Linked DNA regions of Homo sapiens: all the other regions are linked to region 3. Evidence: fine-mapped QTL for protein levels in blood plasma. Region 3 holds a variant in brackets. A gene starts in each other region. All regions are shown on their reverse strands.

Evidence for each region. PIP is the chance, under the fine-mapping model, that this variant and not a neighbour inherited with it causes the effect. Protein levels are from antibody-based Olink assays in UK Biobank. Linkage for the fine-mapping came from a reference panel and not from the study's own genotypes, which makes the PIPs less certain.
Region 1: it holds the start of UMOD, and the variant in region 3 is fine-mapped to the plasma level of the UMOD protein (UK Biobank, PIP above 0.99).
Region 2: it holds the start of ERBB4, and the variant in region 3 is fine-mapped to the plasma level of the ERBB4 protein (UK Biobank, PIP above 0.99).

The regions. Positions count from the first base shown.
Region 1 is chr16:20,350,338-20,355,800 of GRCh38, reverse strand. UMOD (uromodulin) reads left to right here and starts at 3,086. Exons shown (of 11, transcript NM_003361.4): 1 at 3,086-3,112; 2 at 4,962-5,151. The coding sequence starts at 5,064.
Region 2 is chr2:212,538,502-212,543,872 of GRCh38, reverse strand. It overlaps ERBB4 (erb-b2 receptor tyrosine kinase 4), which reads left to right and starts at 5,071. Exons shown (of 28, transcript NM_005235.3): 1 at 5,071-5,371. The coding sequence starts at 5,343.
Region 3 is chr3:186,929,218-186,934,680 of GRCh38, reverse strand. It overlaps ST6GAL1 (ST6 beta-galactoside alpha-2,6-sialyltransferase 1), which reads right to left and starts at 4,155. Exons shown (of 8, transcript NM_173216.2): 1 at 3,847-4,155. RefSeq lists enhancers at 1,709-1,768, 1,789-1,838, 3,932-4,540 and silencers at 3,735-3,924, 4,165-4,244. The variant CG/G (reference allele first, on the strand shown) is at 2,538.

The sequences.
Region 1 (5,463 bases), not on the chromosome of region 3:
GTGTCTGACCCAAGAGAAGTGCTCAGTGGGTGATTGTTCTCAGCATTATTAAGATCAAGTCTCCTACCCATGTTTGAAAGTTAAGAGAGAAAAGTGTTTCAGGCTGGTTGTGGTGGCTCATGTCTGTAATCCCAGCACTTTGGGAGGCCGAGGCAGGCAGATTACCTGAGGTCAGGAGTTCGAGACCAGCCTGGCCAATGTGTACAAAAAAAACACAAATTAGCCGGGCATGGTGGTATGCACCTGTAATCCCAGCTACTCGGGAGGCTGAGGATTCAAGGATTCAAGAGAATCACTTGAACTTGGGAGGTGGAGGTTGCAGTGAGCCAAGACTGAGCCACTGCACTCCAACCTGGGTGACAGAGCAAGACTCCATTAAAAAAAAAAAAAAGAAGAAGAAAAAGAAAGAAAGAAAGAAGAGTGTTTCAAGAGCGAAGTGCTGAGAGATTAAGGTTCGTTCAAAAACAAATATTTATTGTGCACTGTCCTAGAGGTAAGATAAAGAGAAAAATATTGATTGAATTTGGTAACATGGATGTCTTTGGTGAACTTGATGAGCAACAGAGCAGGAAATTATGGCCACTGACAACTTGTTATACTCACAGATCCCAAGAGAAGGGGACACACCACACTGGGCAGAGGGGCTGAAGGGAGAGGAAGAGCTGCTGGGAAGTACCAGGGTCGGTCAGGAAGCAAAGAGAGCAAGGGAAAAGGCAGGAAAGAGCCTTTATTGTAGTTTCTGCAGGAAGGAATGGGAGAGGCAAGGTAAGCAGATTTAGGATTGGCTTAGTTTGAATAATTTCAGAGACCTCTGGGCCATAGGAGTTGTCTCTAGTTGTCTGGTACCTGGTCCCTTGGGGTGATCTAAAGCAGCAAGTAGTGACCCTAAGTGTAAAAGCCCCAAAAAGGAGGCCAAGGGTTGGGGGTATGTGGTCTGGATTGATTGATTTGCAGTCGGAAAGGCACATTCACAGATAAGTCGTTTTTGATCTCTAGTAATTATTGAGCCCTGGGAGGGGCAGTCCCTCCATGATCAGTAAGGCCCCAAAATGTACAAGCACCAAATACAGAAACTAGAAAGCATGGTGATTACACTTATGAATAGATTCCAACCCAAACTCCCCATTTTCCTGCCCAAGTCTTTGTCAAGAAAACTCCAGAAGCCACCTGGGGTCACTGTCTTTAATCCTTTGAAGACACCCATAATAAGGTTTAGACAAGGCCTCATGAAAAAGGTATAGGATAAAAACGACTAGTTCAGAAAAAAAAAAGTAAATAAATGAAGAGATAACTTCCCTTTTCATCAAAGAATTGCAAAAATGAACAATAATGAGATCGTTTCCACTTATCCTTTTGGCAAAGATGAAAGCAAGTTACCAATGCTCAGAACTGGTGAGTAGTGTTGGTGGGATTGTAAACCAATTTATAATAATTCTCTGGGGTGCTGTTTGGGAAGAGGAGTCAATATTCCTACAGCTGTGCTACCTCTTTGACCCAGAATTTCCACTCCTTGGACATAATCCTGAGGAGATGACAACACCAGTGCCAGTGGTTACCCTACCACTGAGTGGGACAGGATGGAGAAATGTCCTGAAAAGAGCAATTCACAATAGCAAAGACTTGGAACCAACTCAAATGTCCATCAATGATAGACTGGATTAAGAAAATGTGGCACATATACACCGTGGAATACTATGCAGCCATAAAAAATATGAGTTCATGTCCTTTGTAGGGACATGGATGAAGATGGAAACCATCATTCTCAGCAAACTATCGCAAGGACAAAAAACCAAACACCGCATGTTCTCACTCACAGGTGGGAATTGAACAATGAGAGCACTTGGACACAGGAAGGGGAACATCACACCCAGGGGCCTATTGTGGGATGCGGGGAGCGGGGAGGGATAGCATTAGGAGTTATACCTAATGTAAATGACAAGTTAATGGGTGCAGCACATCAACATGGCACATGTATACATATGTAACAAACCTGCACGTTGTGCACTTGTACCCTAAAACTTAAAGTATAAAAAAAAAAAAGATCAATGCAGTGATCATGGTGATATTTTCCTGCTCAGCCCAAGTTCACACATATTTTATTTTTCTCAACATGATGACAGCCACTCTCACACTGACTTTTGGAATGTCATGTATGTTGAACTGGGTCTGAAGACATGGTTTTAACTCAGGCTCTGTCATTTTCTACCTCAGTGATTGCACAACAGCAAAGCAGAATTTTCACTACTTCCATGAATATAATCATTACTATATGACTTTACTTGCATCATCTCCTTTGGTTACTATTACTACTGTGGGAGATGGGTATTCTCATTTTATAGACAAGGAAATTGACCTCTGGACCTCAGGAAGGTTAAGAAATGAGCCCACTGCCACACAATAAACACCAGATAAAGGAGGCAGACTGACTCCAAAGTCAGTCTATTTAAGTGCAAATTTATTTCGCCTCCAAAGGGACCTCCCAGTCATCAGACCTGATTCTTTGTTGTACAGAGTGGGTCAGGTCCAGTGATGTCTGAACTACCTTCTGGTTCTGACTTTCAGCCATTCTCAGCTCCTCTCTTGCTTGTGTCTGGATTCTAAGGCTGATCTCATGAGAATGGGTGTTTCAGAAGGGTGCCCTCTCCAAGACAGGTGCACCTCCCATCTGGGGCAGTGAATATCCCTTTTGTCCTTATGCAGCCTGGCTTCAGATACTGGCTTCTGCCTGGCTCCTTGATCCCACCCTGCCCTTGTCAGTGACCAAGAAGAAGCCCAGCACCTTGGCACTGCTTTCCCAGTTAATTTCTAACTATGGAATCTCTTGCTGTTAGAAGGTGCGAAACAGTGACCTTGTATTTCCGGGCACAGGTGTGACCCCCCAATGTCAATCATTTGGGGTCTCTAGCTATTAGGAAAAAGAACAACAACAACCTCACAGCTTGGACAAGGCAAACATTATGCCAGGAGGAAAAAATATTCCACCCCCAAGAAAACAATATCAAAAAACAGAACTAGAGACTAATTGGAGGAGAGATTGCCAGCCTGGGGCAAATGTGTATATATAAGTATGAGGCACATCATGACCAGACTAACTCTACCTTTCTGGCTTCAGGTAAGGCTATCTGTAGCTGTCTTCTCCTAGCCCAGCTTCTCCCCATCCTATTTGAGGGAGGTAGGAGAGGAAATTAAGACCTTGGACACTGGGGTCAGACCTGGATTTGAGTCATTATTCTGCCAATTATTGGCTTCATGATCTTTAGTAAGTTAGTTTTCCTCTCTTTGATCCTCTCTGTCCTAGTAACAATGACTACTATTTTTTGACTTATTCCATGAATATTAGTTATGCACCTATTATGTGCCAGGTACCAGGGTTACAACAATGAACAACTTGCTATGTGCTGGGCCCTGCTCGACATATGTCATCTTAGTTAATCCCAGTGACAATATGCAGTGTTTTAGGTCGCATCTTATTAGCGGGTCATAAAATCATTCCTTTTGTGGGTTATATCCAGGGACTTCTTTTAATTAAATATAATAGAATATGTCAGTAAGCAATACAAATTTGAGGCAAGCAGTTAGCCTCTTTGTCCCCCTGTTTTCTCATCTGCAAACTAGGATAATACTTATCTCATAGGGTTGTGGTAAGAATTAAATCACTTAATGTAGTAAGGATATCAATTGTCTTATAAAATTTTATGTGTGTGTGCACATACATGCAGAAGCGACTGCACTAGATCATGACATAAAATGTTTTTCTTTCTTTCTGTCTTTTTTTTTTTGGGGGGGGGGGATGGACTCTCTGTCACCCAGGCAGGAGTGCAGTGGCACGATCTCAGCTCACTGCAACCTCTGCCTCCCAGGTTCAAGCAATCCTCCTGTCTCAGCCTCCCGAGTAGCTGGGATTACAGGCGCCCACCACCATGCCCGGCTAATTTTTGTATTTTTATTAGAGATGGGGTTTCACCATGCTGGCCAGGCTGGTCTCAAACTCCTGACCTTGTGATCCACCCCCTCAGTCTCCCAAAGTGTTGGGATTACAGGCATGAGCCACTGCACCTGGCAACATAAAATGTTTTTCTTTTAGTACATCATGGTCACGAAGATCTGGAAAACGTTGCTCTAGGACCCAATGCCTTTGAGCACATGAATGTCTTTGAACTGAGCCTGGCCCATCATAGATATTCAGTTTGTGAAAGCAACAATCTCCATTTCACAGACAAAAACGGAGACTTAGTAAACTGAAATACCCACATCACAGTGTTAGTGATCAGTAAAGCAGGGATTTGAACCTCAGGTGCAGGCTGCAGCTCCTACATACTTAACCAACATGCCACCCTATTTTGCTGCTATAAACACTGGGGTAATACTGGCATCCACCCTGGACTATTTTTCCAATTGGAAGAAATAGTAAGTGACCACTCCAGAAACATTTAAATGCATTGTGAAGGTTAATTACCTCTCAAGTTGCTCGTCTCAAGCCACTTCTTTACGATATGTGAGTTGCATGAAGGAGCAGACTGCCATGTTCATTGTTCTCCATGGTGACTAGCTCCCTGTTTGGCACAATGTAGCTACTCAATAGATGTTTGTTGAATGAATAAGTGATCCAGGCAAATTGAAAGTTTCCAGGCAGAGGATCAGTTAAAATCCAAAGCTGCCTTCAGTAAAGTGGTGAGTCCAGAACACTATTCCATCTGGCTACTTCCTGCTCCAAATGACTGAGTTCTTCAAAATGTGCAATGTGCTGAGAATTGGGGAGCCAAGACTGGGATGTTGGTGAGGTAAGGAGGGGGAGTACAAGGGGTAAAGTCCCAGCAAAACAAGGGCTGCAGTGTTATGCAATTTTTTAGTCCATATAAGTGACACCTCCTGGAGTTGTATACTATACAATCAAAGCACTCCTTCCAGCTGTGGGGAGGAGAGTTAGATCATGCATTTGTCCCATCCATCTCTGTTCACAGGACACCAGACATCAGAGACAGAGAGAAAAATTCAAAGGGCCAACCCGTCTTTCCTTTGGGCAGGTGCTATCTAGACCTGAAGTAGCGGGAAGAGCAGAAAGGATGGGGCAGCCATCTCTGACTTGGATGCTGATGGTGGTGGTGGCCTCTTGGTTCATCACAACTGCAGCCACTGACACCTCAGAAGCAAGTAAGTGAAAAGTGTGTGTGCGTTGTATATGTGTGTATGCACGTGTATGTGTGAATGTGTGGGGGAAGCAATGTAGCACCTGTCAGAGGTGATCTCAATCCTCCTATCGCACTTGAGACTTGCATTGTCTTCATTCTAAGTCCATTTCTTAGACTCAATATGCACAGGACTGACTTAGAAATTTTGCTAAAGTGCATATTCTGGTTCAGCAGATCTGCAGTAGGACCTGAGATGCTGAATTTTTAACAAGCTTCCAGGCGATGCTCATACTGGGGTCCCTGGAGTACACATTGAAAAGCAAGGGGCTAGAAC
Region 2 (5,371 bases), not on the chromosome of region 3:
GGTAAAGAGCCCAATTGTTGATCAATTCTCAGTAATACAGAAGTGAGCTTATCTGCACATTTTCCTAAGGCCTTGCTATGAACTGAATATTTGTGTATCCCCAAATTCACATCTTGAAGTCCTAATCCTCCATCTGATAGTATTTGGACATAGGGTTTTGGCTAATTATATCATGAGGGTGGAACCTTCACGAATCGGATTAGTGATCTTAAACAAAGAAGAAACAGGGGAGTGAATCTCATTCTCTCTCTCTCTCTCTGGCTCTCTCTGCCATGTGAAGATATAGCAAGAAGGAGCCCATCTGCAAACGAGAAGAGGGTCCTCTCCAGGAACCAAATCAGCTAGCAGCTTGATCTTGGACTTCTCAGCCTCCAGAATTGTGAGAAATAAATGTTTGCTGTTTAAGCCACCCAGTCAATGGTATTTGATATAGCAGCCTGAGCTAAGAATGATAGTTTAAGGTGTGTTCATCTGGTGTCCCAGATGAAGATGTGTGTGGGGGTGAGTGGGAGTAAAGAAGAAGGAATGTAAGAGAAAATTAAAGTATATGGGAATTTTGACAAGCACTTAGTAGGTGAAGAGTAAATCAGAGAGTCATAAAGTATTAGATTTGGGATGTAACAAGCCCTTCCTTTAAAGGTGAGGAAATGGGCACAGTATATGAATTGAATTGCTCATGATCACAAGATGACTTAGAAAGATGAGGAGGAAGATAAGGCACAAGAAGTGAAATTATAATTATATATTTTTAAATGTTGAGAAGATAACTGGTTTGTAATAGAGTCTTGTTTACTTTTCTTACTTGACATTTGTCACAAATTTATATTTATGGCCGATCGCAAAATATTTACAGCAGCAAGCTCTAATATGACCTTTAGGGAAGTCTTAGAAACAAGCTGAAGATTGGAATGAACTATAAGACTCTGGGACAAAGTCAGGGATGTATAATAATTTTACACTGAATTCTGAGTTCAATGTGTTCCTTTCTCCAAACAGCAGCATTCTGTCACTCATTATGTCAAGACTCTCCTTGAATTCTGTTAATAATGGAAGAAATGAAGAGGAGAAGGGGATATGAAAGAGCATCACAGGACAAAGCCATCTCTATATTGGGGTTACAGCTTCAACCAAGGGAAAGTGTGAGAGATCTGGAAGGAAAACAAAAGAATATGGGCCATAGCAAGATATTGTTCTCAAGGGCATAATGACCTCTATGATCTCTCTCAAGTTGGAGAAGTTCTAGTCCCATTTCACACTGTTCTAGTTTCAGGTAACAACAATGAAAATTGAACTAGCTTAAGGCAAAAGGGGACATGAACAACTAACCCACAGGAAGAGCTTGAATATTCTCCAGATCCATCTGAGATTTTGATTCTTTCAAACAGTAGCTTCATTCTTACCACGGCCTGGTTATTCCTATATAGAAGGAAAGAAAAACTAGATGTGGAGTTTTAGATCTCAAAAGCTATCCATGAAAGACTGGATATAAACTCTTTATTTCATTTACAAAAACTGCCAGATAAAGGACTCAGTGGAAGTCCCATCCAATTAACAGTGAGCAAGGCATTTTACTTGGTTCAACTTGGTGTTTTGAGTGATCCAACTTAGAGCCAGGGAGTGGGAGTTGTTGTAGCACGGAGGTAGATCCAAGTTAAACATGTAGAACTGAGGAAAGGGCTGTTTCTGGAAAATGGGCACTCAGCAGGTAATTCCAGGTATTCATCCGTGGCTTGCTAAGTAACACATTGTGTTACCCACATAATTTTTATGCAGGTTCTGAGTAACAGCAACACATTCTAGTTAGGTCCCCTAATAGGGATTTATTATCAAGCTATATGGAAAAGTAAAGAAATACAGAGATTCATCTTGGCCTCTAACAATCCAAGTATCATGTCCTTTCTACATCAGCTAGTAAATATTCCCTACTCTGGTATTTGTTTCTTATAATGACTTAGATGAGATGGGAAGCAAATGAGGGTAGACACTGAAATAACTGATTCTTGACTTGAGCTCATGGCTTCTTTCTCATCCTTTGGCTTGCCCATACAGGGTACTACCTTCCTGTCTACATTTCAAATTATCTGAGCTGGAATCTGATTGGGTAGACAAGGCACCATCAAATATATCATGCTTTTTTTGGCAAAAGCTTTGATGTCAAATCATTTTATAGGCTGCTGTTCAGATACCCATCTGTGGCCACATATCTAAAATTGTTGTTTCAATGTTAGAATGAGTAAAATGGGGATCAAGGCAGAACAAACAGAATTAGAGGGAAACTGTGGGTATGTTGGGTAATGTAATAGGTGAATCCTTGTATGGGCTGTTTAATATCCACAAAAATATATACTAAGTGTTTTTTTAAACCAATGAATATTAATGGAAAATCCTCCTTTGTCAAGAATTATTCTAGAAGATATGGGTGAGAGCAGGGCATATAGAAGATATTCTGTTATAGAAAAGCTATAAAATTGACAGGGGAACAAAAACTAACATAATTGGCACAACTATAAAAAAATCCAAAATATTCAGGCCATGAAGTTTTTGCCCTACAATTTAAGCGAAAATATGCAACTCATTTATTCACTTTGTCTTTTTTTTCTTTTTCTTTTTCTCTCTTTTTTTTTTTCAGAGATAGGGTCTTGCTCTATCTCCCAGGTTGGAGTGCAGTGGCATGATCATAGCTCACTGTAACTATTAACTCCTGGGCTCAAGCAATTCTATCCCATCTCAGCCTCCCAATAGCTAAGACTACAGGTGTGCACCACCATACCCAGCTCATTAAAAAAAAAAAAAAAAAAAGGTAGAGTTGAGGTCTCACTATGTTGCCCAGGTTGGTCTGGAACTTCTGGCCTCAAGGGATCCTCCCACTTCAGCCTCCCAAAATGCTAGAATTACAAGCATGAGCCACCACACCTGGCCCATTCCTTCACTTCGTGCAACATAATTGCCATCAGAAACCAGACTTTTTTTTTTTTTTTACTACAGAGACTTAAACTTTTACAAAAGGAAGATGTTTTTCTCATTTAAATTGTCATTCTAGGGACAGAAAGTAAGTTTTGAAAAGAAGTAGCTTTTATGGAAGAGAGGTGCCTGAGAATTTCAAAAGGATTTAAGACAAGGGGAATGAGAAGAGATTGAATGAAAGAAGAGAAAACAGAGAGAAAGAGTAATTAAAAAAAAGAAAAGAAAAGAAAACAAAGATAATCCCAAAGAGCAGTGTGCACAGTTTTGCTGCAATCAGTACCATTCTGGTCAAGTCTCCGTCATCTGCTCTAGGCTTAGTTCCTCTCTGCCCTAGGCTGCTTCTGGTAAAACCGCACGCTCAGCTTGTTGGGCGTCTTCATGGAGCCTGTTATTTGCTGTGGGTCTAAGAAAGGGAAAGCTTCAGGCTTCAGGCATCTGTACCTCCTATCTGTTCTCAGCTCCATGGAAATTCTTAAGGGATGGGGCTATAGATAAGAGAGTGGGAAATGGAGATCAAGGTCTCAAATGAAAGGCAGGGTGGTTTGATTTTTAAGCTCCCCTGATACTTTTTATTTATATATTTGCTGCTTCTAGAAAAACCAAAAAAGGAAAGTGATTCATACATAGAATGCCTGTACAAATAGCAAACCAATAACTACCCCCAGCAGATTCTGGCCCTTGCCAGGGTGCGGTTTCAGAGCTGTAAAAGGCAAGGGATATGTACATTGAAATGACCCAGTCCCAGAATATTTTAGATTCAGAAAAGGTCAGAGACTTTCGTAACTAGCAATGACCTCCAGATTAGGGACCATGAATGTGCAGAGTGAGGACAAGGAAGGGGCCTAAAGCTGGGTCTACTGTAGAATAAACAGAATCATTTAAGGTTAATTATGTTCTGATGTGGCCTCCTTAAATTCTTTCAGGCTGGGGACAATTTCTAGCCCTTTAAGATCAAATCAGTGGCTTTGGACTAGAATCTGCTTAATAAGAATGAACTCCAAAGGTGAAAAAAAAACATAAAATCTAAAAATCAAAGGATATGCCTTTATAAATGTGAAAGTTTAGTTTGGCTCAATGTTGGTCAGTTTAGAAATGTGGGAGTAATCGGAGAGATGGCATAACTGGGGGCGGGAGGCGGGGCGGTGATTATACCCCTACCACTACCTAATCCTCAGGGGCTACCAGTTACTTGCTGTACACACTTTTAAAGTACTTTCTAATTGTGGACCATGAGTGGCAGAGTACTGCGGGCGGAGGCTTTTTGCTGAAAGCAACATTGACTTTTATTTCTAGGGAAAGTCTTGTCTGTAGATGAGCACCGTGGGGCAACGGAGAAAATGCTGACTTTCTTGTTTAAAAAAAAAAAAAATTTCCGTAAGCGGCCCTCCAATGGTCCGTCCACTCAGCAGGCCAGCTGTCCCAGGCCTCTGCCAGGGAGGGAAGACGAGTGCTTCAGTGCATGGCTTCGGTGAGCCCTTTAAATCCAGCTTCCCCTGCCCCCACCAAGAGGCTCCCTTTCCCTGACAGGTGTTTTCCCAACTCCGGAGGCCCAGGATTTTGGGGAGTGGCTGAGCCAATAAGATTTCCCTTTGGAAGGGGGGGGGAAGGGCGTGGCTAGTTGGGTCAGAGCATGGGCGGGGTTTGCGCGGCTGAGCAGAGCCGGCCTGGTTGCGTGGAGGGTTGTTTTATTCCCACCGCCCCCCGCACCTTTTTTTTTTTTTTTTCTGGAGTCTTATTAATTTCTCTGTGGGCTGCAGCTGGAGACCGCGGAGCGCTGGAAATGACGCTCGGAGCTTTAATTACCGCAGCCGCCGGACAAGTGTGAGGAAAGCTGAGAGGAAAAAGAAGGACGGGATCCGGGGAGAAGCGAGAAGCTCCCCCCGCCCCGCTCCCCTCCCGATTTGGACTGGAGGTGCAAGGAAACTGAAGAAGGAGCAGAACATAGCCCGGCTGCGGGGAGAGGCCGGAAACCTACCGCCTCTTTGCAATCAACTTTTTTTGGAAACCTTTCGCCCCCCTTCCTTTTTTATTGTTGACCAACCAGTGAGAGAGAGAGAAAGTGAGGAGGGAGCGAGCAAGCGAAGGCTCACGCGGGGAAATAGCTGCACAGTCCGGCCCAGAGCGCCAAGCGCACACACCGAGCACACTCCCACACGCGCACACACGCGCTCACACTCGCCCCCTCCTCGGGCCCCGGCCCTGGACCCGCGGGCGCGGACTCGGTCGCCCGCCCTGGGAGTCGCCACACCGCGCGCGCCGCGCCCGCCCCCCTCGCACCCCCACGCGCGCCCGGCTGGGGGATCTCCTCCGCGTGCCCGAAAGGGGGATATGCCATTTGGACATGTAATTGTCAGCACGGGATCTGAGACTTCCAAAAAATGAAGCCGGCGACAGGACTTTGGGTCTG
Region 3 (5,463 bases):
GTGACTTAATGCCCTCAACAACCCCAGGAGATTCATACGCCTTACTCCCCTCACTTTACACAACGCAGAGGCAGCCTGCTGGTTTTCTGTTGTTGTTGTTTTGTTTTATTTTCTGTTTTTGAGACAGGGTCTCGCTATGTCCCCAGGCTGGAGTACAGTGGTGAGATCGCGGCTCACTGCAACCTCCACCTCCCAGGCTCCAGCGATTCTCCTGTCTCAGCCTCCCAGGTAGCTGGGACCACAGGAGTACGCCACCATGCCCAGCTAATTTTGTTCTTTTATTTTTTGTAGAGATGGCGGTGGGGGAGGTAGTCTCACTATGTTGCTCAGGCTGGTCTCAAACTCCTGAGCTCAAGGAATTCGAACTCTTCCCTCCTCGGCCTCCTGAAGTGCTGTGATTACTGGAGTGAGCCACCACACCTGGCCCAGCCTGCTGGTTTTAAAGTAATACTAGAGACAGGAAGATGACCCCAAACCCCTCCTATGGCCTGAGCATCTTCCGCTCCGCTGGAACAGCCTGTGCAGAGACTGGGCAAGGAGAACCCTCACTGTACAAAGAAGGAAACTGGAGCCCAAGAGGTTAAGTAGCATGAACAGCTAAGTGGCGCCTCTCTCTTCTGTCTTCTCACTGCCTCTTGCCTTATGATTTCATACAAAGCAGCCCCTAAATGGGGAAGCACAAGACAGAGACATGGAGGAACCCAGCACAAGAGTAAAGTGAACCGTTCAGCAAACACTAAAGAAAGCTGATCCCCAGAGATAATTGCACTATTCAGCATACCTACTACTGGGATCCCTGGCTTTGCTTAATAACCAAACCTATTTAAATCCATAAGGAATTGGTTCTCTGACTTAAAGGGTGTTGTTATAACAACCATAACTTTGGCTTTTCTCTGGAGTACCAACAACTACTGGTTTGATGCAACCATTTCCCTTTTACGCAAAAAGGTGCACTAAAAGTAGACCACGCATTGTTGTGTATCATTAGGCAAGCAATTTCTCTTCTCTAGGCCTCACTTTTCCCATCTGGAAAGTAAAAGGGTCCAGTCACATGATTTCTGAAGTTCCTTACAGGGTCAGCGTCCTGGTGAGAAAACTATACTGCAGTGCCAAGAGGAATTGATGTAGGATTTTTCTTCTTGGTCCTCGGGCCAGCAATGCCCCACCTGTGCTCGCTCGGCCATGCAGGTGTGTCCCAGCTCACTGTATTATAGCTTGTACCCGCGTTCGGTGGTTCCGAGCTCGTGCACCACACCAAAGGATAATGAGGATACACTGGACATTGAAGGGAGAGGAAGGCAGATAAGAATTTTATTGAGTGTTGAAAACAGCTTTCAGCAGAGAGGGGACACCGGGTTGGTCCCCTACCTGAAGACGGAAAAGTTCCCCAATGTGGCTGGGTCAGGGGCCTTTTATGGACTCAGAATAGGGAGTGCATGCTGACCGGTTTGTGAGTATGCAAAAAAGATGAAAGCAAAGACACCACTCAAAGGTGGGCACGGCAGCGTAGAAAACCAATTAGGAAAAAGTGGGTATATGTAAAACAGGCGAAATGTAGGAATCAATTAGGGGAAAGCACGCCAAACAAGTTCTCACTCTGGTCTGAGGATTTAACTCGTAGCTTGGCTTTCAGGCTTTAAACTGTCTTTGGCCTGGAGGTGGGGGTTTCACCGGGTACCTGACCCTATCTGCCTAGGCATCCAGCTGCCTCCTGTTGCTACCAGAATCACATTGAAAGTGAAACACGCTGGAAACTCTAAGGAAAAGAAACAAGTGTAACTAGGAGATAACAGGCACAGTGCAAAACAACATGTTAACTTTGGGGAAATCCGGCTTCTCAGTGTTTTTTTGGTTTTCCTACTTCTCTGCCAAATACAAAAATAAGCAGCTACTTCCATGGGACTCTCGTTAAAAAAAAAGTAACTTTAATAAGATCAGTGAAAACAATGCTTTGTTCTCCCACAAGTGGCTCAGGAGTAGCTTGCTAAGACACACTTTCTTCCCCGTGGGGCTGATGTCAACAGCCCATGCTTTTGCCCAAACAAAGGCCTCCTGGCACAAGGATGAGAGGCAAAACATCTGAGTCTCCGTAGCTGGCCTTATTCCAATTTGAGGGGAAGGGGCAGCCAGGAGAGAAAAATAACTAAGCTTTTGAAAGGCTTGAAGGAGAGTAAGGAATTACTAAATCTATTTTTTCTCAACAGAATAAAGAATTCTTGAAAGGGATAATGGAAGGGTGCAGCTTTCTATTTGAATTACTCTTTGTTTCACCCTATTCTGCCTAAGGCCACTGCCTTTTAGGCCAATCACAGAATCCCGGTTTTGCCTTTAGTTGCCCGCTGAGCGATGCAGTGGGAGTTGGGAGACCCACACTCAAGTGTTCTCTCTGTGGCCCGTTTCACCCGGTTTAAACTTGGACAAGTGGCTGAACTCTCCGGCCTCAGCTTCCTGCCTGTAAAATGAGAAGGCTCCCTAGATGCTCTCTAGACCTTTTCAATAACAGCGGAATAGGATTGGAGGCTCTCCAGTTCCCCCCC[CG/G]GGGACAGGTTAATCTTCAGCCACACTAGCCAAGGTGAGGCAGCAGCCCGCCCGCTCAGCAGGCACACACTGGGGCGGCGGCGCCTCCATTCCTGCTCACACTGCACGCCCACAACCTGCACCAACACCATCGCCTCAGAGACCAATTCACCGCGAAACCATCTCCCCGCTGCAGATCGTGTCCGATTAACATCTGCAAAGCTGAGCTGAGCATATGTAAGCAAAGAAAAAGCAAAACAAACAAGAGTTCTCTTTTTCCGGACCTCGGAATTTCTTTCAAATAAACTCAGAACTGAAAATTGTACGTCCCCAGCTAGAATACGAGGTCTCGGCTGGCCTTGCTTGCGAAAATGCATTAACAAGCCAAAAGGGGCTAGTGACATCTGGGGTGTCTGGGCACACGGACACGGGCCTCAGAGGCAAAGAGCAAGACCGCACTGGGCGACTCGTACATTCTTCCCGCAGGCTGAGGAGGCGACCAAAATATCCCCACAGAGGCAATCGCCGGAGTGCGGGGACAATAGTGCACCCAGCACTCTCTTTTTTTGAGGGGCACCCTTAGACCCTTAACCCAACCCACATCTCTAAGAGACCTCCAGGAGGTGAAGGTGAGGGGTGGTCCACTTCACCCAAAAGAATGCGCCACGGCCGGGGACCGACTCAGCCTGGAGTAACCTTTTTGTAGCTGCTTTCTTGTTTTGGTTTCCCTTTTTAAGTCTGGCAGTTTAGTCTGATGCCCAAGCGGTACCTTTTAAATGTCTCTCTCGCCCTCTTCCAGCAAGTGGCGCCTCTAGAGCCACTCCCTCCCCCGAGGCTGAGACAATGGCCCGGCACCGCAGGGCGGCCCCTAAGGGTATGCAGTGCGTCCAGCTCTCCGGGCAGGGCGCACGTGCGTTTGTTATGGTGCCTGTGCCCCCTCCGCTGCCGCGGGCCTCAATTTGTCGATCCGTAAACCCAGACTCTGCAAGGCGCAATGCCCCCACGCCACCCCACCCCATACTGACGGTGCCGTGGAGAAATCCGTGTTCCCCGGGGCTGTGCGCACGTGGGTTTGTTGTGGATCCGCAGGCTCGCGGAGCCAGAGAGAAGCCAGGGTGGCCCTTTGGCCCTGACAAAAATGCACACACCCCCAACCAAAAGGCGGCCAGCCCCGGAGCCAAGGCAGCTGAGGCGGAGCTGGAGAGAGATTCCCTGCGCCCTACGCGCGCCGCGGGCCCCGCGCCTCCGCTATCCTCCCGCGCCCCTTTGCATCACACTCCTCCCGGGATAGCCCGGGCCGCGCCGCCGCCCACCGCACCCCCTACTCACTCGCTGCACTCTCGGCCGCGGAGGCTGCGGTTGCTCAGCACGCTCGGTGGCGGCCGCCCGCTCCGCGCCCACGCCGGTCGGTATCGGCTCCCTTTGTTAACGCCGGGCAGTGCCCCAGGCGTCTTCCCCAGCCCGGCCCTGCCCAGGACTCCCCTCCCCCAGGTGACTCCAGAAAACGCGCTCGGCAAGGGCAGGATCGCCCGGGAGCTGGGGACCCCACTAGGGAGTCTCGAAAGAGGGGTCCGCTGGGGAAGAACGGGGGACAGAAGACGCACAGTGGAAGGGACTGGAGAAGGAAGGAAGAAGAGCGCGGCGGAGGGGCGGGAAGGAAGCGAGTCGCCTCCGTATGCAAATAGAGTTGCGAAGACTGGGTCGGTCTCCGCCCCCACTCCACCTCTCGCCACCGGCCACACCGCGCCCCAAACCGGCCTGGAGGTCGCTAGCGAGCGGGCTTGGGGTTAAAGACTCTTGATGAAGGCACTGGGTGATGCTAGAATCCTGCCTGCTCTCAAGGAGGGTGGATCGAGGGCCGAGTGGGAGGGGCCACGCGGCTGCGCAAGGACCCCTAAATGCCTCTTCCCCGCTTGGCCGCGAGGGGTCAATCCAGCAGTGTCCGGCTTTTGGTCCTAACATGCGGGTGCTGTACACCCGGTCTCTGCTACCGGCTGACTGCGAGACCCTGAGGAAGTCGCTTAACCTCTCCGAAGACTCGTGTTGCTCTTATCTAGAATAGGAAAGAACAAAATCTTTCACTGCGTTTGGCATTAACCTCCTAACATTGAGGCATGACTCCTACTGGGCGCTCTCAAATGGCAAATACAGAAGGAGAGGAGCGTCCTCGAACCCCTGCACCCAGAGGCTTCCACCCCAAGCTGCAGGCTGAAAGACTGAAGCCTCAGCCTGGATGGTGAAGGGAGCGAGGTTCTTTCTTTTCACCCGGACGACGGTGGGGCTGCTGGGGAAGGAAAGAGGATTAACCAAGCTGCGTACTGACCATCCCCGATAGCCCCAAGGCGATTTCCCTAAGAAAGAAAAACTGCCCAACAGGAGGGCGGAAGGGGCCTTTAAGGCCTCCAGTCCAGCCTCCCATAGCCCAAAGAGAGGATGTGACTACCAGAGGCAATAGTCATATCCCAGTTGTCTACTGAGTGCACACTAGGCACCAGGCTGTGTGCTGGGTGGGAAAGGGGAAAGGAAGGAGATACTGGAAGGTTTGGGGGTCCTCTGGGAACACAAAGTCCAGTGCACACTTAAAGTGCCTGAAGCCCAGGCCCAGAGTTCTGTCTCCAAATGAGGTGCCTACCCCACATCACCAACCTTGGAAAGGGAAGTTACATCCGCACCCTGTCCCCAGCACCCTTCTTCCAAACACTGCTTCCTCCCTGTCCTGATCCTGGCTCCCTTCTGCTGATACTGTCATTCCCTTCCCTGCTGCCCCTGAGGCATTTTTGCTCAGTACAAAGAGCTCCAATTGAAGGGAGTGCCAGCCAGAGTGAATTCAAATCTTTATGACCAACTCGCTGTGCCTTCTTGGGTGAGTTCCACATCCTGTGAGCCTCCCTTTCCTCTTCTGCAAAATGGAGATATTAAGGAAAGCGTTGTTTTCAGGATCCTGTG